Linked DNA regions of Homo sapiens: all the other regions are linked to region 1. Evidence: fine-mapped expression QTL. A gene starts in region 1. Each other region holds a variant in brackets. All regions are shown on one strand. Distances are from middle to middle.

What was found.
Region 2: its variant is fine-mapped to the expression of IL12RB1 in whole blood (TOPMed, PIP above 0.99).
Region 3: its variant is fine-mapped to the expression of IL12RB1 in whole blood (TOPMed, PIP above 0.99). The same link has a PIP of 0.9 or more in blood mononuclear cells.
Region 4: its variant is fine-mapped to the expression of IL12RB1 in whole blood (INTERVAL, PIP 0.98).
Region 5: its variant is fine-mapped to the expression of IL12RB1 in testis (GTEx, PIP 0.98).

Annotation. Positions count from the first base shown.
Region 1 is chr19:18,084,605-18,088,604 of GRCh38, reverse strand. It overlaps IL12RB1 (interleukin 12 receptor subunit beta 1), which reads left to right and starts at 1,671. Exons shown (of 17, transcript NM_005535.3): 1 at 1,671-1,845. The coding sequence starts at 1,782. RefSeq lists enhancers at 1,340-1,399, 1,410-1,759.
Region 2 is chr19:18,283,283-18,287,542 of GRCh38, reverse strand. LOC124904652 (a long non-coding RNA gene) reads right to left here. Exons shown (of 2, transcript XR_007067154.1): 2 at 1,610-2,082. It also overlaps the pseudogene RPL39P38. Among named protein-coding and RNA genes, the nearest start is that of MIR3188, 3.3 kb to the right of the region's middle. The variant A/G (reference allele first, on the strand shown) is at 1,995.
Region 3 is chr19:18,056,450-18,060,675 of GRCh38, reverse strand. IL12RB1 (interleukin 12 receptor subunit beta 1) reads left to right here. Exons shown (of 17, transcript NM_005535.3): 16 at 591-782; 17 at 1,063-1,681. The coding sequence ends at 1,068. Among named protein-coding and RNA genes, the nearest start is that of IL12RB1, 28 kb to the left of the region's middle. The variant C/G (reference allele first, on the strand shown) is at 1,794.
Region 4 is chr19:18,036,056-18,040,315 of GRCh38, reverse strand. No RefSeq gene overlaps it. Among named protein-coding and RNA genes, the nearest start is that of ARRDC2, 30 kb to the right of the region's middle. The variant C/T (reference allele first, on the strand shown) is at 2,144.
Region 5 is chr19:18,064,752-18,068,751 of GRCh38, reverse strand. IL12RB1 (interleukin 12 receptor subunit beta 1) reads left to right here. Exons shown (of 17, transcript NM_005535.3): 11 at 226-363; 12 at 2,055-2,210. Among named protein-coding and RNA genes, the nearest start is that of IL12RB1, 20 kb to the left of the region's middle. RefSeq lists an enhancer at 3,599-3,893. The variant A/C (reference allele first, on the strand shown) is at 2,440.

The DNA of each region.
Region 1 (4,000 bases):
ACTAAGTTGCATCTCTTAAATTTTTTTTTTTTTTTTTTTAAGAGACAGGATCTTGCTCTGTTACCCAGACTGGAGTGCAGTGGCACAATCACGATTCACTGCAGCCTCAACCTCCTGGGTTCAAGCCATTCTCCCACCTCAGCCTCCTGAGTAGCTGAGAATACAGATGTGTGCCACCACGACTGGCTAACTTTTAATTTATATATATATATATATTTTGAGATGGAGTGTCACTCTGTTGCCCAGGCTGGAGTGCAGTGGCGCGATCTCGGCTCACTGCAACCTCCACCTCCTGGGTTCAAGCGATTCTCCTGCCTCAGCCTCCTCAGTAGCTGGGATTACAGGTGCCTGCCACCACACCCGGTTAATTTTTGTATTTTCAGTAGAGACAGGGTTTCACCATTTTGGTCAGGCTGGTCTCAAACTCCTGACCTCGTGATCCACCTGCCTTGGCCTCCCAAAGTACTGGGATTACAGGCGTGAGCCACCGCGCCTGGCCTAATTCTTTATTTTTTATAGAGATGGGGTCTTGCTATGTTGTTTAGGTAGACCCAAACTCCTGGGGTCAAGTGATCCTCCCACCTCGACCTCTCAAAGTGCTGGGATTAGAGGGGTGAGCCCAGGTGCACAAGGCTGGAGCTTGGCATGTGGGGAGGTGGGCATTGTGGAGGGCCAGCATGCTGCAAGCTCTTTGTAACAATTTGTTGGAAGGATGAAATTAGGCCATCCAAGAACACTGCCCTCCTTCAGCTCTTGAGTCTCAGATTCAGAAGCTGGCGAGATGGCCCGGTGCGGTGGCTCACGCCTGTGATCCCAGAATTTTGGTAGGCCAAGGCGGACGGATCATTTGAACCCGGGAGTTTGAGACCAGCCTGGGCAACATGGCAAAACCCCCTCTCTTAAAAAAAAAAAAATGCAAAAATTAGCTGGGCGTGGTGGTGCATGCCTGTAGTCCCAGTTCCTGGGGAGGCTGAGGTAGGAGGATGGCCTGAGCCTGGGGAGGTTGATGTTGCAGTGAGCCGTGATTGCACCACTGCACTACAGCTGGGCCACAGATCAAGACCCTATCTCAAAAGAAGAAAAAAAGAATTTGGCAGCCAGGCACGGTAGCTCACGCCTGTCATCCCAGCACTTTGGGAGGCTGAGGTGGGTGGATCACTTAGGGTTAGGAGTTCGAGACCAGCCTGGCCAGCATGGTGAAACCCTGTCTCTACTAAAAATACAAAAATTAGCTCGATGTTGTGGCAGTTGCCTGTAATTCCAGCTACTCGGGAGGCTGAGGCAGGAGAATTGCTTGAACCCGGGAGGCAGAAGTTGCAGTGAGTGGAGATCATGCCACCACACTCCAGCCCGGGCGACAGAGCAGGGCTCCATCTCAAAAAAAAAAAAAAAAATTGGCTAGAGAGGGCCAGAGACCTGGCCAAGTGCATGGAACCACAGGTGGCCCATGGGCCCATGGGGCTGGCATCTGGGTGTTCAGTTCAGGTCTGGGGCCAGCAGGGCAGAACCCCCTAGAACCCTGACTTGCTCCAAAGTCAGACTTGCTCCAGAGTCTGTGGCCGCCACCATCACCACCACCACGGAGCTGACTTCCTGGGTTTCTCTTTCACTTTGACTTGCCTTAGGGATGGGCTGTGACACTTTACTTTTTTTCTTTTTTCTTTTTTTTCAGTCTTTTCTCCTTGCTCAGCTTCAATGTGTTCCGGAGTGGGGACGGGGTGGCTGAACCTCGCAGGTGGCAGAGAGGCTCCCCTGGGGCTGTGGGGCTCTACGTGGATCCGATGGAGCCGCTGGTGACCTGGGTGGTCCCCCTCCTCTTCCTCTTCCTGCTGTCCAGGCAGGGCGGTGAGTCCCCTGACCCTGGCATGGCGGCTCCTCTTGCTGGGTGGAGGCACGTGTATGTGTGGAGAGCTGTGGGCCTGCTGTGTGGGTTGGTTTCATCTCTCTGTGCCTCAGTCTTTCCTGCTGTCAAATGGGAGATGGGCAGTCATGGCTTCTGGGATCGAACTTAGACATCTTTCCTCTGGTCTAGATTTTCTCTTCTGTGAAATGCACTAAATTTTTTCCACCTCCCGGAGTTCAATGAGAAAAAAAACTAAGGAAGGAATAAAAAGCAAGTATGTATCTAATAGGTATACATAGTATAGTATCTTATGTATGTAGTTTACAATAGATAGACATACATAATATAATGTATACAGTCATTTCCATATTTACGGGGCAATGGTTCCAGGACCCTCTGCAGATACCAAAATCCAAAGATGCTCAAGTTCCTGATATAAAATGGTAAAGTATTTGCATATAACCTATGCACATCCTTCCGTATACTTTACTTATTTATTTATTTATTTATTTATTTATTTATTTATTTATTTATTTACTGAGGTAGGGTCTCACTCTGTGTCCCAGGCTGGAGTGCAGTGGCCTAATCATAACTCATTGCAGCCTTGACCACCTGGGCTCAAGTGATCCTCCTGCCTTAGCCCCTTGAGTAGCTGGGACTGCAGGTGCACACTACCATGCCTGGTTAATTTTTTTGGTGTATACTTTTTACAGAGACAGCGTCTCGCTGTGTTGCCCAGGCTGGTCTCGAACTCCTGGGCTCAAATGATCCACTCACCTTGGCCTCCCAAAGTGCTCAGATTACAGGCATGAGCCACCATGCCCAGCCTTCCCATATACTTTTAATAATCTCAGGCCCTGCACGGTGACTCACTCCTGAAAATCCAGCACTATGGGAGGCCAAGATGGGTGGATCACTTGAGGTCAGGAGTTCGAGACCAGCCTGGCTAACATGGTGAAACCCCATCTCTACTAAAAATGCAAAAATTAGCCAGGCTTGATGATGGGCACCTGTACTCCCAGCTACTTAGGAGCTGAGGTGGGAGGATCGCTTGAACCCAGGAGGCAGAGGTTGCAGTGAGCCGAGATTGCAGCACTGCATTCCAGCCTGTGTGGCAGAGCAAGACTCTATCTCAATAATAATAATAATAAATAAACTTTCCTTCTCTGTACACTGGGGATCAGCGGGGTGCTGACTTTTTCAATGGCTCTTGAGATGCACTGAGTGCCTGTAGAATGCCCACAGCAGTGCTGGCCACACCTCAAGGTCCCAGCGCCTTCAGGGGCCAGGCATGGCTGGAGACCAGCAGCAGGGAGGGGGCGAGAGGCAGCCCACGAGGTATCCTGGAGATAGTGGCAGTGAGTGGTCAGTCCAGGGAAAGGGAAGGAGGATGGGCTTTAGGCTCTCAGGGGTGGGTGGGTGGGTGGGGGTTCTGTGTCATCACAGAGAGAGATGGAAGGATGGAGAGCCTTGTGTGTTAAGCATCTTTCCCCCCTCAAGGTTGGACACTTGGGGCTGTTTCCTGGGGTGCCGCCTTCTCCCCCAAGGCTTCCAATCTGCCTGCAGGGCTCAGGACAGGTCCTTCTTGTGGGAGTGAGGGCGCCGGGGTCTTCCTGACCCATCCATGGTGGCATCCCCCTCCTTCTCTCACCCAGTTCCACACCTAGCAGACTGTGGCAATCCCAAAGGGCACGGGGATCCCAGTGGCTGAGGGAGGTCGCTGCCTCCTGGAGAAATGTTATTAATAATTGCCCTGACTGCTAGTGGGCCAAGTGTGCTTGCCTGGGCCAGCCCTGGCAGGCCTCTCCCTGCCATGCACCCTCTACTGTCTTTCCCCATGCTGGCTTCAGACACTGGTGCCACCCCAGGCACACCTCCACTTCTCTCTGCCCTCCAGACTGTTGGTCTTACTGTTCTTTCCTGCAGGGGTACCTCCCGAGAGTGTCTCCCAAATATGCATCTCAACCTCTGAGGACTAAAGGGTGGTGGATGAATGGATAGACAGGTGGATGGGTGGGTAAATGAATGGATGGATGAATTAATAAATACATGTATGTATGTATGGATGGATGGATGGATGGATGGATGGATGGATGGATGGCTGGATGGATATATCGGTAGGTAGATAAATGGATGGATGGGTGGGTGTATGGATGA
Region 2 (4,260 bases), 200 kb before region 1:
GTTGCTTTAAACAATAAATCTCTGCGCTGGGGAAGGACTACAGCCGCAGCGATTCAAACCCCGGCGGCTGCGGGGCGTCAGGTTCGGCTTCTGCTTGGAGGGCAGGGTTCTCTCTGGCCTGGCCTGTACGACTCTGGGCACGTCGCGCGCCCCCTCCAGACACTGCCCTGAGAAGTGGGATAACGTCCCTCACCACTCGTGGAGCTGCTGCTGAGATAAAGGTGAAAATGCAGAGTCCCGGACCAAGCCCTAGTGTTGCCCCAACCTCATCTGCAACTTTCATTGCCTTGGGGGTAAATCCCTCCTGAGCAGAGGTGGAGGCTTCGGCACTCCCCTTCTCTTCCTTTGGCACTCACTGGCTTCCCAATCCAGTCCCACCTGCCTCCCCACCTTCTAGAAATGTGTCCAACTGGTTCCTGCCCCGGGGCCTTTGAACTGGCTGTTCCTATTACCGGAACCCTCTGATCCCCCAATAATTGGCAATTAAGTCCAGCTTGTCTGTCACTTGGTGTTACATCCTGGGCCACCCCTCCCAGATTACCCAAACTCTAAAATATCAGCCCCCTCCACTACCATCTATGGCGGGGACACCATTGATTCTCCTGAAAACTGCGCCGGTCTGGCTCTCCCTTGGTGTGGGGACCTACAAAGGTGCAGATGTTGGTCTTGTTCATGTGTGCCCTTTCCCCTGGCTTACAGTAGGGGCTCAATCAGTGTATGTGGATTGAATGAATGAAAGTTCTCTCTAGTTCATTGTATGGGACTAGCTGATGGCGTTAGAGACACCCTCCGCCCCATATGTCCAAAGTGGCTTCAGATCTGCCCCGGAGGAACCCCCACTCTGGGAAAACAGAGCTGGACCAACAGCTGCTGTGGTGTCAGGGCTGGGATAAATGGAAGGACAGGAATGGGGTGTCCCAGAGGGCTCTCTGGCTGGGAGGAGGAAGGAGAGGGTAGGAAAGGGCATTGAGGTGGAGCAACAGAAAATGCGAAGAGAAAGAAAAAGGGAGGCCAGGCGCAGTGACTCAAGCCTGTAATCCCAGCACTTTGGGAGGCTGAGGCGGGCAGATCATGAGGTCAGGCTCAAGGCCAGCCTGACCAACATCGTGAAACCCCGTCTCTACTAAAAATACAAAAAATTAGCCGGGCGTGTTGGCACATGCCTGTAATCCCAGCTATTTAGGGAGGCTGAGGCAGGAGAATCGCTTGAACCCAGGAGGGGAAGGTTGCAGTGAGCCAAGATCAAGCCACTGCACTCCAGCCTGGGCGACAGAGCGAGACTCCATCTCAAAAAAAAGAAGAAAGGAGCCCTTGGGGGTGGCAAAGGCAGCTTCCCACACTTAGGGGCCAGGAGAGGCCTTCCCCATCCAGTCCTGAAGACCTCCCCTCCCCTTCTATGGAGGAGACAGAACAAGACACAGATAAGGGACAGACAGGTCTTAGCCAGATGGAGAGGATTGACGACGGTCCTAGGGGACATGGTCAGGAAGGGTTTCTTGGAGAAGGTGGTGGGTTTTGAAGGATGAGTAGGAGTTCGCCAAGAGTGTAAGGGTATTCCAAGCTGAGAGAACTCAAAACCAAAGAACTGCAGTTACATTTGGGCAAATAATACAATCATAGAAAGCATTTATTGACCCCTTACTATTTGTTTTTTCTTTCTTTTTTTTTTTTTTTTGAGTTGGAGTCTCACTCTGTTGCCCAGGCTGGAGTGCAGTGGCGCGATCTCGGCTCACTGCAACCTCCTCCTCCTGGGTTCAAGTGATTCTCCTGCCTCAGCCTCCCAAGTAGCTGGGACTAAAGGCGTGCGCCACCACACCGGGAGAATTTTTGTATTTTTAGTAGAGACAAGGTTTCACTATGTTGGCCAGGCTGGTCTCGAACGCCTGACCTCGTGATCCACCTGCCTCAGCCTCCCAAAGTGCTGAGATTACAGGCGTGCGCCACCACACCCAGCCTGACCCCTTACTATTTCTTCAAATCCAATAAAAATCGCA[A/G]TGCTTTTCCTTTCTGCACCATCGTGGTGTGTTCTTGACTCCACTTCTCGCCATATCTTCCTACAAGACTTTCAGGATTAAGCGATTCCTGGACAAGAAACAAAAGCAAAATCGTCCCATTCCCCAGTGGATTTGGATGAAAACTGGAAATAAAATCAGGTACAACTCCAAAAGGACACTGGAGAAGAACCAAGCTGGGTCTATAAGGAATTGCACATGAGATGGCACACATATTTATGCTGTCTGAAGGTCACGATCACGTTAGCATATCAAACTGAAAGTGTCACCACTATCTGGAGAGTTCGACGTGTTTTCCTCTCTGAATCTGTTATGAACGTGTGGGTTGGCTGGGTTCAGTAATAAATATGTGAGGCCTTTCATTTCAAAAAAAAAAATCGCGATACTCCACAAAGTAGGTAGGTTTATTTGCTCAATTTTCATGAAGGAAAAGCTGAGGCTCAGAGAGGTTGACAGGCCTCTGTATCTCACCTGCCTGCCTGCAGGAAAGTGCTCCACTCAGCTCAGGCTGTCTCAGCCTACCATTCACCAGACCATCTCCCCAGCTGCCAAGGCTGAGGCCCAAGTTCAGGGCAGGGCCTCTGTAGGCCGCCCACTCACCTCCTGCCTCAGGGAGAGGCATGACCCCGTCTCCTCCACTCTGGCCCCACTGCACGGGACCCAGAGAGGGGTTCCCAGGGCAGGGCTGGCTACAGGTCTGCGGGCTGGATCTTGTCCCACTAGGGATCTCTTTGTCCAGGATAGAACCTGGGCTAGAGAGCACAGAGACCCATGGATCTGAGTATGTATCTGTGTGTACCTGCGTCTGTCTATACAACACGAATACAGACAGACACAGGTGCACACACAGACACACACTCCAATAGGCAGACAGACACCTTCCTAACCAATCTAGAGACAAAACAAACCCACACCTCCAGTTCCCTGCCCTGGCAATTTGAATCCCAGGCCTGCCAGGCCAGGTCTTTATTATTATTATTATTATTATTATTATTATTATTATTATTATTTTTAAGATGGAGTCTTGCCCTGTTGCCCAGGCTGGAGTGTAGTGGCATGATTTCAGCTCACTGCAACCTCCATCTCCTGGGTTCAAGTGATTCTCCTTTCTCCAGAGCAGCTGGGATTACCGGTGCGCTCCCCATGCCTGGCTAATTTTTGTATTTTTAGTAGAGACAGGGTTTTGCCATATTGGCCAGGCTGGTCTCGAACTCCTGACCTCAGATGACTTGCCCGCCTCAGCCTCCCAAAGTGCTTATTACAGGTGTGAGCCACCTCGCCCAGCCTATTTTTTTTTTCTTCTTTTTTTTTTTTGAGACAGTGTCTCACTCTGTAGCCCAGGCTGGAGTGCAATGGCGCAATCTCGGCTCACTGCAACCTCCACCTCCCGGGTTCAAGCGATTCTCCTGCCTCAGCCTCCCGACTAGCTGGGATTACAGGCACCTGCCACCACACCTGGCTAATTTTTTTTTCTTTTCTTTTTTCTTTTTTTTTTTTGAGACGGAGTCTCGCTCTGTTGCCCAGGCTGGAGTGTAGTGGTGTGATCTCGGCTCACTGCAAGCTCTGCCTCCCGGGTTCATGCCATTCTCCTGCCTCAGCCTCCCGAGTAGCTGGGGACTACAGGCGCCCGCCACCATGCCCGGCTAATTTTTTTTTTTATTTTTCAGTAGAGACAGGGTTTCACCGTGTTAACCAGGATGGTCTTGATCTCCTGACCTCGTGATCAGCCTGCCTTGGCCTCCTAAAGTGCTGGGATGACAGGCGTGAGCCTCTGCGCCCAGCCTAATTTTTATTTTCAATAGAGATGGGGTTTCACCATGATGGTCAGGCTGGTCTCAAACTCCTGACCTCAAATGCCTGCCTCAGACTTCCAAAGTGCTGGGATTACAGGCAGGAGTCACCGCGTGTGGCCGACAGGCCACCTCTCTTGGTGATGAGGACAGCCTCCCTTATGGCCTTCATGCCCCAGTTGGGGGCAGAGCCAGGTGAGTAAGGAGGATAGAAAAGGAGTAACGCATGCCCACTGGCCAGGCAGACAAACTGAGGCTAGAGACCACCCACACAAGCAACCTTTTGTTGCATTCACCTTTATTTTTTATTTTTTTTTGAGACTGGAGTCTCACTCTGTCTCCCAGGCTGGAGTGCAGTGGCACAATCTCAGCTCACTGCAACCTCTGCCTCCCGGGTTCAAGCGATTCTCATGTCTCAGCCTCCTGAGTAGCTGGGATTACAGGTGCACACCACCACA
Region 3 (4,226 bases), 28 kb after region 1:
TAGGGAAGGGTCTGATGGGTGGGCTGGCCAGGGTCACATGACCATTGCTAGAGCTGAGGTGGGGTCACTGCACTGTCAACCACACCATCTGTGAAAAGAGGGAGGGAAATTTCCCAAAGACAGATGGGAGTGCTCTTCCTAAGAGGGGCTGAATGGGAGTCAGTGCGGCAGACTCCATCCTCAAATCGGTCTCAGGATATATGGAGTCTCGCTCTGTCACCCAGCCTGGAGTGCAGTGGCGCCATCTCGGCTCACTGCAACCTCTGATTCCCGGGTTCAAACGATTCTCCTGCTTCAGCCTCCCAAGTAGCTGGGATTACAGGCGTGCGCAACCAAGCTCAGCTAATTTTTGTATTTTTAGTAGAGATGGGGTTTGGCCATGTTCTCCAGGCTGGTCTCAAACTGCTGACCTCAAGTGATCCACCCGCCTCAGCCTCCCAAAGTGCTGGGATGACAGGTGTGAGCCACTGCACCCGTCCAGGTCTCAGGATGTTAGAGAATTTAACCAGCAGTGACCTGGTCCGTTCCATCCTGCTGTGGATGGGAAGTAGAGCTCTGCTCACAGCTGTGGCCCTACCCTCCCTCTGCAGACTTGGCAGTGGATCAACCCAGTGGACTTCCAGGAAGAGGCATCCCTGCAGGAGGCCCTGGTGGTAGAGATGTCCTGGGACAAAGGCGAGAGGACTGAGCCTCTCGAGAAGACAGAGCTACCTGAGGGTGCCCCTGAGCTGGCCCTGGATACAGAGTTGTCCTTGGAGGATGGAGACAGGTGCAAGGCCAAGGTCCTGGGGCCCAGTGGGCCAGACGGTCAGGGGTGCAACCCTGCCCGGGGGGTGGGGGGGCTAGACATCCATCGCTCCTGGGATATCAGGGCCTGGAGGCCTGAGGGAGAAACGAAAACATCCACTTTGTCTTACAGACACGAAGAGCGACTATCTCAATCACAACGGCTGGTTATTAAGCACTTATGGCATACCCAGCCCATTCCATCCACTCACATGATTCCCTACCAAATCCCTACAACCACCCCCTGAAAGGAACCATGACTGTTGTACTTTACAGATGTGATCGTTGAGGCTCAGAGAGGGTGAGTGACTCGCCCGAGGCTACGTAGCACACACAGGAGTCACATTTGGACCCAAATAACCCAGAGCTCCTCCAGGCTCCAGTGCACCTGCCTCCTCTCTGCCCCGTGCCTGTTGCCACCCATCCTGCGGGGGAACCCTAGATGCTGCCATGAAATGGAAGCTGCTGCACCCTGCTGGGCCTGGCATCCGTGGGGCAGGAGCAGACCCTGCCATTTACCTGTTCTGGCGTAGAATGGACTGGGAATGGGGGCAAGGGGGGCTCAGATGGATCCCTGGACCCTGGGCTGGGCATCCACCCCCAGGAGCACTGGATGGGGAGTCTGGACTCAAGGGCTCCCTGCAGCATTGCGGGGTCTTGTAGCTTGGAGGATCCAGGCATATAGGGAAGGGGGCTGTAAACTTTGTGGGAAAAATGACGGTCCTCCCATCCCACCCCCCACCCCACCCTCACCCCCCTATAAAATGGGGGTGGTGATAATGACCTTACACAGCTGTTCAAAATCATCGTAAATGAGCCTCCTCTTGGGTATTTTTTTCCTGTTTGAAGCTTGAATGTCCTGCTCAAAATCTCAAAACACGAGCCTTGGAATTCATTCATTCATTCATTCATTCATTCCACATATATTTATTAATCTCTTCCTCTAGGTCTCCTCCAGGAGCACCTAATCCGGGGGAGACAGAGCCGGATGAGAGCTTGGAACCCTA[C/G]TAAGTTAGGACTGAGCAGGGGAAGGGACGGCCTAGGGGGAGTGGAGCAGCCGGGCACTCCGGTAACAGGAACCGTGGTTTGCCCCCACGCTCCTTCCTCCTCACGCCCACCAACTCGCAGCAGGACCCTTGCCCCCCTTACACACCCTGAATCCTCCCTCTTTCTGCCCACACTGCCCCACCTCCCTCGCGTTCTGCAGCCGCCTCCCCCTGATCCCCACTGCGGTCTGAGCCGAGGTGTGGGGGGGGGCTCCTGAAATCCCACCCCAGCCCTGGCGATTAGCGGGTAGTCCAGATTCTCCCCATGGCCACCAGGTGGCAACAGCGGCGCGCGTTTCCCCGGCCGGGCCCGCCCTGCCTCCTCCCACCGCGTTTGCTAAACAGACTTTTCCGGTTTCAGACAGAGGAGGGGAGTTAAAAAGCCCAGAACTACTGAATTTTGTGGCAAAAAAAGGATGAGACCTCTCGGGGAGAGACCCCTGGCAGCCAATAGGGCCAGGAGGCAAGAGGCCCAGGCCCCGCCCCTTTGGTCTGGGGGCCTCCCTTTCCCCATCGATGCATCTAGATAGGGAAACAGAGGCCTGGATCTCGGTGCCCCAGCCACACGGTGGCTGGTCAGAGTTCTGCAAATGCCCCCCGCCCCGCTCCGGATCTGCCACATCCCAGCTTCTGCTCAAGCCGTTCCCTCCACCAGGCATGCCCTCCCTTGAGCGTTTATCCTCCTTTCTTTTTTCTGAGACGGAGTTTGGCTCTTGTTGCTGGAGTGCAATGGCGCGATCTTGGCTCACGGCAACCTCCCGGGTTCAAGCGATTCTCCTGCCTCAGCCTCCCAAGTAGCTGGGATTACAGGCGCCCGCCACCCTGACCAGCTAAAATGTGTTTGTATTTTTAGTAGAAACAGGGTTTCACCATGTTGGCCAGGCTCGTCTTGAACTCCAGACCTCAAGTGATCCACCCGCCTCGGCCTCCCAAACTGCTGGGATTGCAGGTGTGAGCCCTGGAGGCCCCTGGAGTTGGCTGCAAACCCACCCCTATGCACAGTCCCTTGGGTGCGAGAAGTAGGAGACAGGCAATGTTTACTGGCAGCAGCTGGGACTTTTGCCAGAGTGCATGGGGAAGATGCACACCCTGCTTCCACTAGCGGGAGACTGAGCTGGACAGAGGGAAGCCTGGAGCTTGGAGCCTCTTTCCTTCCTACCGTGGGGATGCCTGTCTGAGAGAGGAGCCTGCAGGGAGGACAGCAGCACCGAGATGAAGCATTAGTTCCTGGATCCAGCCATACCTGAAACCCAATATTTTCCATCTGGTTCCTGTTTTTAAAAAATATTTTAGGCCGGGCATGGTGGCTCACGCCTGTAATCCCAGCACTTTGGGAGGCAGAGGCGGGCTGATCACCTGAGGTCAGGAGTTTGAGACAAGCCCGGCCAACATGGTGAAACCCCGTCTCTACTAAAAATACAAAAATTAGCTGGGCGTGGTGGCAAGCGCCTATAATCCCAGCTACTTGGTAGGCTGAGGCGGGAGAATCGCTTGAACCTGGAAGGGGGTGGTTGCAGTGAGCCGAGATTGTGCCACTACACTCCAGCCTGGGCGACAGAGCGAGACTCCGTCTCAAAAAATAAATAAATAAATAAATAAATAAATAAATATTTTTTTTTATTTTTTGTTTCTTTTTTGAGACAGGGTCTCACTCTGTTGCCCAGGCTGGAGTGCAGTAGCACCATCTTGGCTCACTGCAACCTCCACTTCCTAGGATCGAGTGATCCTCCAGCCTCAGCCTCAGGCTCAAGCCTTGTTGCCAAGGTTTTGCCATGTTGCCCAGGCTGGTCTCGAACTGCTGAGCTCAAATGATCCACCTGACTTGGCCTCCCAAAGTGCTGGGATTACAGGCATGAGCCACTGCACCCGGCCTCAGTTCCCTGTTTGATGAAGCCACTTTGAGTCCTTCTTCTGTCCCTAGAAAATGACCAACAGGAGGTTCTTTCTGGGCCTCTGCTTACCCGTCTATAAAATAGGAAGGGATTTGGAGTCCTTTTCTCAATGGGCCCAGCAAGTTTGCTTAGCTGGGCCCTGGCCTGGTATTTATTGAGCAACTGCTATGCAACTATTACTCCAGGGCTCCTCAGAGCAGCCATTGCCTCAGCTTCTCCCAGCAGCTCCAGGAGTCAGGATGGTGTTAGCCCCCATTTCACAGCTCAGTTTCATTCATTCATTTAAGAAATCAGGGTCCGGCGCGGTGGCTCACACCTGTAATCCCAGCACTTTGGGAGGCCAAGGCGGGCCGATCGCTTGAGCTCAGGAGTTCGAGGCCAGCCTGGCCAACATGGTGAAACCCCGTCTCTACTAAAAATACAAAAATTAGCCAGGTTTGGTGGCACATGCCTGTAGTCTCAGCTACTTGGGAGGCTGAGGGCTGAGGTGGGAGAATCACCT
Region 4 (4,260 bases), 48 kb after region 1:
TAATCTCTCTTAATACAGTTTGTGTCTTTCCCTGCAGAGTTGGAAACACTTTTTGATTCCTTTATTCCTCTTTCTTTTCTTTTTTTTTTTTCTTTTGAGACAGAGTCTTGCTCTGTCGCCCAGACTGGAGTGCAGTGGCACAATCTCGGCTCACTGCAAGCTCTGCCTCCTGGGTTCACGCCATTCTCCCGCCTCAGCCTCCCGAGTAGCTGGGACTACAGGCACCCGCCACCACGCCCGGCTAATTTTTTGTATTTTTAGTAGAGACGGGGTTTCACCGTGTTAGCCAGGATGGTCTCGATCTCCTGACCTCATGATCCATCCACCTCAGCCTCCCAGAGTGCTGGGATTACAGGCGTGAGCCACCGTGCCCAACCTTTTTTTTTTACTTAGATGGAGTCTCACTCTGTCGCCCAGGCTGGAGTGCAGTGGCACAGTCTCCTCTTTCTTGATGCAGGGGTCTGTCCTGAACTTCCATGGCACCAGATGATTTCTTCTCCACTACGTTCCTGATTCTACTATATTTTCTCACAGCTGCTATTTCTGCTTTTTTTTTTTTTTTTTTTTTTTTTTTTTTAAAGACATGGTCTCACTCTGTCTCCCAGGCTGGAGTGCAGTGGCGCAATCATGGCTCACTGCAGCCTCCACCTCCTAGGTTCAAGCTATTCCCCTGCCTCAGCCTCCTGAGTAGCTAGGATCACAGGTGCATGCCACCATGCTTGGCTAATTTTTTTGTTTTTTTGAGATGGAGTCTCGCTTTGCCACCCAGACTGGAGTGCAGTGGCATGATCTTGGATCACTGCAACCTCCGCCTCCTGGGTTCAAGCAATTCTCCTGCCTCAGCCTCCCAAGTAGCTGAAAGTACAGGCACCCACCACCACACCCAACTAATATTTTGTATTTTTATTAGAGAGGGGGGTTTCACTATGTTGGCCAGGCTGGTCTCGAACTCCTGACCTCAGGCGATCCACCCTCCTCAGCCTCCCAAAGTGCTGGGATTACAAGGGCGAACCACGACACGCGGCTCTATTTTGTATTTTTGTAGCAACGAGGTTTCGCCATGTTGCCCAGGCTAGTCTCGAACTCCTGGGCTCAAGTGATCCTCCCACTTGGCCTCCTAAAGTGCTGAGATGACAGGCGTGGGCCACTGCGCTGCACCCAGCTCCCTTAGGGCCACATTGCTGAGTCTGCAACAGGGCTCCTCTGCGTCCCTTTGCCTGAGCCACCAGCTCCCCGACTGGGATACTGAGTCCAGCTTCCAAGTGACCCTGGAACAGCATGGTATTGGGATCAAGACCACAGGATGCCACCCTGGCCTGGGCTCCTCGCTCCCAAGATTGTTCTAGAATCTAAGCAGCCCCAGGACTGGACATTTCAAAGGGGCAGGTGTGCAATGAGATGTGACCAGGAACTGGCTGATCCTGGGACATCACTGCTGCTGCCTCGCTGCGCTGGCAGGGAAGTGCTTGATGATTAGCAGTTGGCCATTTGGATGATGACAAGATGTCAGAGTGAGACTTTAGGTTGGCTCACACCAGTGTAAAACAAATGAACACAGCTGAGAAGACAAAAGACACTAAATCCAACCTGGGACTTATTTCTCCCGCTCTGACAATGCCCACTGCACCAGGCCCAACCCACCCTGTCCTCACAATGACCCCATGTGCAAGGGGGTGATGAACCTCATTGTACAGGTGAGGAAACTGAGGCACGCATCTGTATGTCTCAGACTGATGGGCACCATGGCTCACACCTGTAATCCCAGCTCTTTGGGAGGCTGAGGCAGGAGGATTGCATGAGCCCATGAGTTCAAGACCAGCCTGGGCAGGCCAGGCGTGGTGGCTCATGCTTGTAATCCCAGCACTTTGGGAGGCTGAGGCGGGCGGATCACAAGGTCAGGAGATCGAGACCATGGTAAAACCCCGTCTCTACTAAAAATACAAAAAATTAGCCAGGCGTGGTGGTGGGCACCTGTAGTCCCAGCTGCTGGGGCGGCTGAGGCAGGAGAATGGCGTGAACCTGGGAGGCGGAGCTTGCAGTGAGCTGAGATCATGCCACTGCACTCCAGCCTGGGCGACAGAGCGAGACTCCATCTCAAAAAAAAAAAAAAAAGACCAGCCTGGGCAACATAGCAAGATCCCAT[C/T]TCTACCAAAAAAAATAAATAAAAAGGACTGTTTTATCCAGATTGATAGTTCCAGGGCTATTACGCATGGAACCGGAGCCATGGTGCCTGATTCAGTATGGCTGTAACCCATACTATCTCCACTTCTAAACTGACTGCTTTAAGGCTGGGTGTGGTGGCTCATTCCTGTAATCCCAGCACTTTGGGAGGCTAAGGCGGGAGGATCGCTTGAGGACAGGAAGTCGAGGCTGCAGTGAGTCATGATTGCACCGCTGCCCTCCAGCCTGGGTGACAGACTGAGACCCTGTCTCCATAATAAATAAATAAATTGACTGCTTTCTCCTTTTTTTCTGTGTTTCTTTAATGGTATGCTCACATATGTTTCATGAATTCTTTGAATATAGCAAGTTAATACTTGTAACTTAAAACACAGATGTGTTTTATTTTGAAGCAAGAAAAAGAACATGAACAGACACATCTGGATAGCTAGGGTATGTAGCAAGAGACCACTCTTCATCATTCCAGAGCTGGAACTAATAACACGAGTTTTCCAAAACAGAAGACTTTGTATAAAGCATTTGAATTTTTTTCTTTTTCTTTTTCTTTTTTTTTTTTTTTTGAGACAGAGTTTCACTCTGTCACCCAGGCTGGAGTGCAATGGCGTGATCTCGGCTCACTGCAACCTCCACCTCCTGGGTTCAAGCGATTCTCCTGCCTCAGCCTCCCAAGTAGCTGGTAGGACAGGCGCCCACCACCATGTCCGGCTAATTTTTGTTATTTTTAGTAGAGATGGGGTTTCACCATGATGGCCAAGCTGGTCTCAAACTCCTGACCTTAGGTGATCCACCTGCCTCGGCCTCCCAAAGTGCTGGGATTACAGGCGTGAGCCACCACGCCTGGCCTTCTTTTTTTTTTTTTTCTTGAGACGGTCTCACTCCGTTGCCCAGGCTGGAGGGCAGTGGCACCATCACGGCTCACTGCAGGCTCAGCTTTCTGGGCTCAAGTGATCCTTCCATCTCAGCCTCTCAGGTAGCTGTGACTAAAGGCCTAGTCACAAGAACCATTCTGTAACATTCTGAGTGTCCACCGCCACACCTGGTTAATTAAAAAAAATTTTTTTTTGTAGAGATGGGGGGTCTCCCTACATTGCCCAGGCTGGTCTCAAACTCCTGGGCTCAAGTGATCCTTCCACCTCCCAAAGTGCTGGGATTACAGGTGTGAACCACCACTCCTGGCCTGGATTTTATTCTTACGTTACTTTTTTTTTTCTCACATTCTCAAAATAAAATATTAAATACATAAATTTTGAGTCAAGTGTATTAAGGTGTAACTTATATCCAATAAAGTACAGTTGAATGAGTTTTGTTTTTTTTGAGACGGGGTCTCACTCTGTCACCCAGGCTGGAGTGCAGTCGTGTGATCGCGGCTCACTGCAACCCCTGCCTCCCGGGTTCAAGCGATTCTCCTGCCTGAGCCTCCTGAGACACTGGGATTACAGGCACATGCCACCATGTACGGCTGATTTTGGTATTTTCAGTAGAGACGGGGTTTCACCATGTTGCCCAGGCTGGTCTCGAACTCCTGACCTCAAGTGATCCTCCCACCTCGGCCTCTCAAAGTGCTGGGATTACAGGCATAAGCCATGGTGCCCAGCCAGCACATTTTTCCTTATGGGGTTAACAGTGAGTTTCAGACAGTTACATATACAGTGGGGGTGGGGGGATAAATAAAAGTGAGGGGCCTTCCTGCAACAAGCCCCCGGGGCTGAGCTCAGAGGGGCCCAGCAGCCTGAGATGCAAGGTTGGCTCTTGGTCACCTGCAGTTGGCTAAAGTCCCATTTCATGGCCAGTGCTACTAAGGCTAGAGACAAAGGACCCAGTGGGCTCAAATCTGGCCCTGGATGCTGGACCTCCATCTTCTCACCTCAAAAGCAACGATAAGGCCAGGCGCATTGGCTCGCACTTGTAATCTCAACACTTTGGGAAGCCGAGGCAGGAGGATCGCTTGAGCCCAGGAGTTTGAGACCAGCCTGGGCAACATGGCAAGATCCCATCTCTTTAAAAAAAAAGTTTTAGCCTTGCACGGTGACATGCACCTATAGTCCCAGCTACTCGAGAGGCTGAGGCAGGAGGATCACT
Region 5 (4,000 bases), 20 kb after region 1:
AGAAGCCCTGGTTCCATGGAGTAAGGGCTGGGTTAGAGGGGGATGGGGATGGGGTTGGGGGTGTTGCATAGGGAAGAGATCTTGGAGGAGGGGATATTGGTGCAAGGGCTTTGAAACATGAGTAGGAGTTTTCTGGGGGTTCCTGGCAGATGGCACAGCCAGTGCAAAGGTGCAGAGGTGGGAACACAATCTACTGAATGGCCTGGCCTTTGCTTATCCTTCCAGCAACCTACAGCTGGAGTCGAGAGTCTGGGGCAATGGGGCAGGAAAAGTGTTACTACATTACCATCTTTGCCTCTGCGCACCCCGAGAAGCTCACCTTGTGGTCTACGGTCCTGTCCACCTACCACTTTGGGGGCAATGGTAAGTGACCCAAACCTGCAGGTTTACATTATTTTTTCTTTTTAAATAATTTAAAAAAATAGAGGCTGGGCACAGTGACTCACGCATGTAATCCCAGCACTTTGGGAGGCCAAGGTGGGTGGATCACCTGAGGTCAGGAGTTTGAAACCAGCCTGGCCAATGTGGCGAAACCCTGTCTCTACTAAAAATACAAAAATTAGCCGGGTGTGGTGGCGGGTGCCTGTAATTCCAGATACTTGGGAGGCTGAGGCAGGAGAATCGCTTGAACCCAGGAGGCGGAGGTTGCAGTGAGCTGAGATCATGCCACTGTACTCCAGTCTGGGTGACAGAGCAAGACTCTGTCTCAAAAAAAAAAAAAAAAAAAAAAAAAAGGACAATGCTGTTAAGGCAGACAGAATGGCTCACCCCTGTAATCCCAGCACTTTGGCACTTTGGGAGGCTGAGGCTTGTGGATCACTTGAACCCAGGAGTTCAAGAACAGCCTGGGCAACATAGCAAGACCCCGTCTCTACAGAAAGAAAAAAGTTTGCCAGCCATGGTGGCATGTGCCTGTAGTCCCAACTACTCAGGAGGCTGAGGTGGTAAGATCACTTGATCCCAGGAGTTTGAGGCTGCAGTGAGCTATGATTGCACCACTGCAATCATACAACCTCTGCCTCCCGGGTTCAAGCCATTCTCCTTCCTCAGCCTCCTGAGTAGCTGGGATTATAGGTGTGCACTACCATGCCTGGATAATTTTTTGTATCTTTAGTAGAGACAGGGTTTTAGCATGTTGGCCAGGCTGGTCTCAAATGCCTAACCTCGTGATCCACCTGCCTTGGCCTCCCAAAGTGCCGGGATTACAGGTGTGAGCCACTGCGCCCGGCCAGCATTGTCCATTTTATAGATAAGAAAACTGAGGCCCAGGGAAGGGAAATGACAGTGACTGAGTGGCAGAACCAGAATTAAAACCCAGCTCACCTGACTCTGTGGCCAATGTTACCTCCGTCTCTGGACAGTGGGAGGCTGGGCATTCAGGAAGTGCTCAACCAGCACTCCTTTTTTTTTTTTTTTTTTTTTTTTCTTGAGACAGAGTCACTCTCTGTGGCCCAGGCTGGAGTGCAGTGGCACGATCTTGGCTCACTGAAACCTCTGCATCCCGGGTTCAAGCGATTCTCGTGCCTCAGCCTGCCGAGTAGCTGGGATTACAGGCGCCCACCATCATGCCTGGCTAATTTTTGTAGTTTTAGTAGAAACAGGGTTTCCCCATGTTCCTCAGGCTAGTCTCGAACTCCTGACCTTAAGTGATCTACCCACCTTGGCCTCCCAATATGCTGGGATTGCAGGCATGAGCCATCGTGGCTGGGCTTTTTTTTTTTTTTAAAGACAGGGTCTTGCTCTGTTGCCCAGGCTGGAGTGCAGTGGTGCCATCTTGGCTCACTGCAACCTCTGCCTCCTGGGCTCAAGTGATTCTCCTGCCTCAGCCTCCTGAGTAGCTGGGATTACAGGTGTCCGCCACCATGCCTGGCTAATTTTTGTATTTTTAGTAGAGAAGGGGTTTTGCCATGTTGGCCAGGCTGGTCTTGAACTCCTGGCCTCAAATGACTTACCCACCTCGGCCTCCCAAAGTGCTGGGATTACAGGTGCGAGCCACTGTGCCAGGCCTCGACCAGCATTCTTGGTGTTGACTATGACAATGGTACTGGTTGCAGCCTCAGCAGCTGGGACACCGCACCACGTCTCGGTGAAGAATCATAGCTTGGACTCTGTGTCTGTGGACTGGGCACCATCCCTGCTGAGCACCTGTCCCGGCGTCCTAAAGGAGTATGTTGTCCGCTGCCGAGATGAAGACAGCAAACAGGTGTCAGGTACGTGAGGCAGTGCAGACCTGGCTTGGGGAGGAAGGGAGGATCCTGGCCTGTGATCTCTCTTGCTGTGTGACCCTGGGCACCTTGCCGTCCTTCTCTGGGCCTTGGTTATCAAACCCTTAAAACAAGAGAATTGGCTGGGCGCAGTGGCTCACGCCTGTAATCCCAGCACTTTGGGAGGCCAAGGCGGGCGGATCACCTGAGGTCAGGAGTTCAAGACCAGCCTGAC[A/C]AACTTGGAGAAACCCCGTCTCTCCTAAAAATACAAAATTAGCCGGGCATGGTGGCACATGCCTGTAATTCTAGCTACACGGGAGGCTGAGGCAGGAGAATCGCTTGAACCCAGGAGGCGGAGATTGCAGTGAGCCGAGATTGTACCAGTGCACTCCAGCCTGGGTGACAGAGTGAGACTCTGTCTCAGAAAAAACAAAAACGAAAACAAACAAACAAAAAACAAAAACAAGAGAATTAGACTTGAGGGTCTTTTTTTTTTTTTTTTTAATTTTATAGACAGGGACTCACTCTGTGCCCAGGCTGGAGTGCAGTGGTGCCATCATAGCTCACAGCAGCCTCAACCTCCTGGGCTCAAGCGATCCTCCCACCTCAGCCTCCCTAGTAGCTGGAAACACAGGTGCACACCACCATGCACAGTTAATATTTTATTTTTTGTAGAAATGAGGCCTTGCTATATTGCCCAGGCTGGGATTTTTTCTTTTTTTTCTTTTTGAGAGGGAGTCTGTCTCTGTCACCCAGGCTGGAGTGCAGTGGCGCCATCTCAGCTCACTGCAACCTCTGCCTCCCGGGTTCAGGCAATTCTCTTGCCTCAGCCTCCCAAGTAGCTGGGATTACAGGCACCCACCACCATGCCTGGCAAATTTTTGTATTTTTAGCAGAGACGGAGTTTCACCATGTTGACCAGGCTGGTCTCAAACTCTTGACCTCAGGTGAATCACCCGCCTTGGCCTCCCAAAGGGCTGGGATTACAGGTGTGAGCCACCGTGTCCGGCCTCGCTCAGGCTGGTTTCAAACTTCTGGCCTCAAACTATCCTCCCACCTTGGCCTCCCAAAGTGCTGGGATTAGTCATGAGCACCCAGCTGAACTTGAGGGTCTCGATCACCCCTTGCAGACCCTGGAGAAGGCTGGGTGGGCACCAGCCAAGTGCTTATGGTGTATTGGATTCATCCATGGGAAGCTGCCCCTCACATGTAGCAGCAGCTGAACTCTCATCAAGCAGGGATGACTGTCTCCATTCCACAGATGAGGAAACTAAGGCCTGGAGGGGGGATCTGATGAGGGACAGGAAAGCCCACAAAACAGGGTTTAGCCAGGAGGGTTTTTGGCTTTCCCCAGGAAAGAGTTCAAGTGCATGTCGGTGGTGTTAGACAGAAACTTTTACTGAAGTGGCCGTGTAGAGCAGCAGCAGAAGTCCTGCTCCTTGCAGAGTGGGGACGCCCCACAGGCAGGGCAGCTACGTCTCATATTTATACCCGCTTTTAATTATATGCAAATGAAGGGGCGGTTTATGCAGAAATATCTAGGATGAAGGTAGTAACTTCCGGGTTGTGGGATCATTGCCGTGGACAGGGGCGGTAATTTCCGGGTGTTGCCATGGTAATGGTAAACTGACATGGCACACTGGTGGGCGTGTCTTATGGAAAGCCCAGGACCTGCTTTAGCTAGTCCTCAGTTTGGTCCTGTGTCCAAGCCCTGCCTCCAGAGTCCAATCCTGCCTCCAACCTCAGATCCACCTGCCCAAAGATCCAACAAGTCAGCCGGACGCGGTGGCTCACGC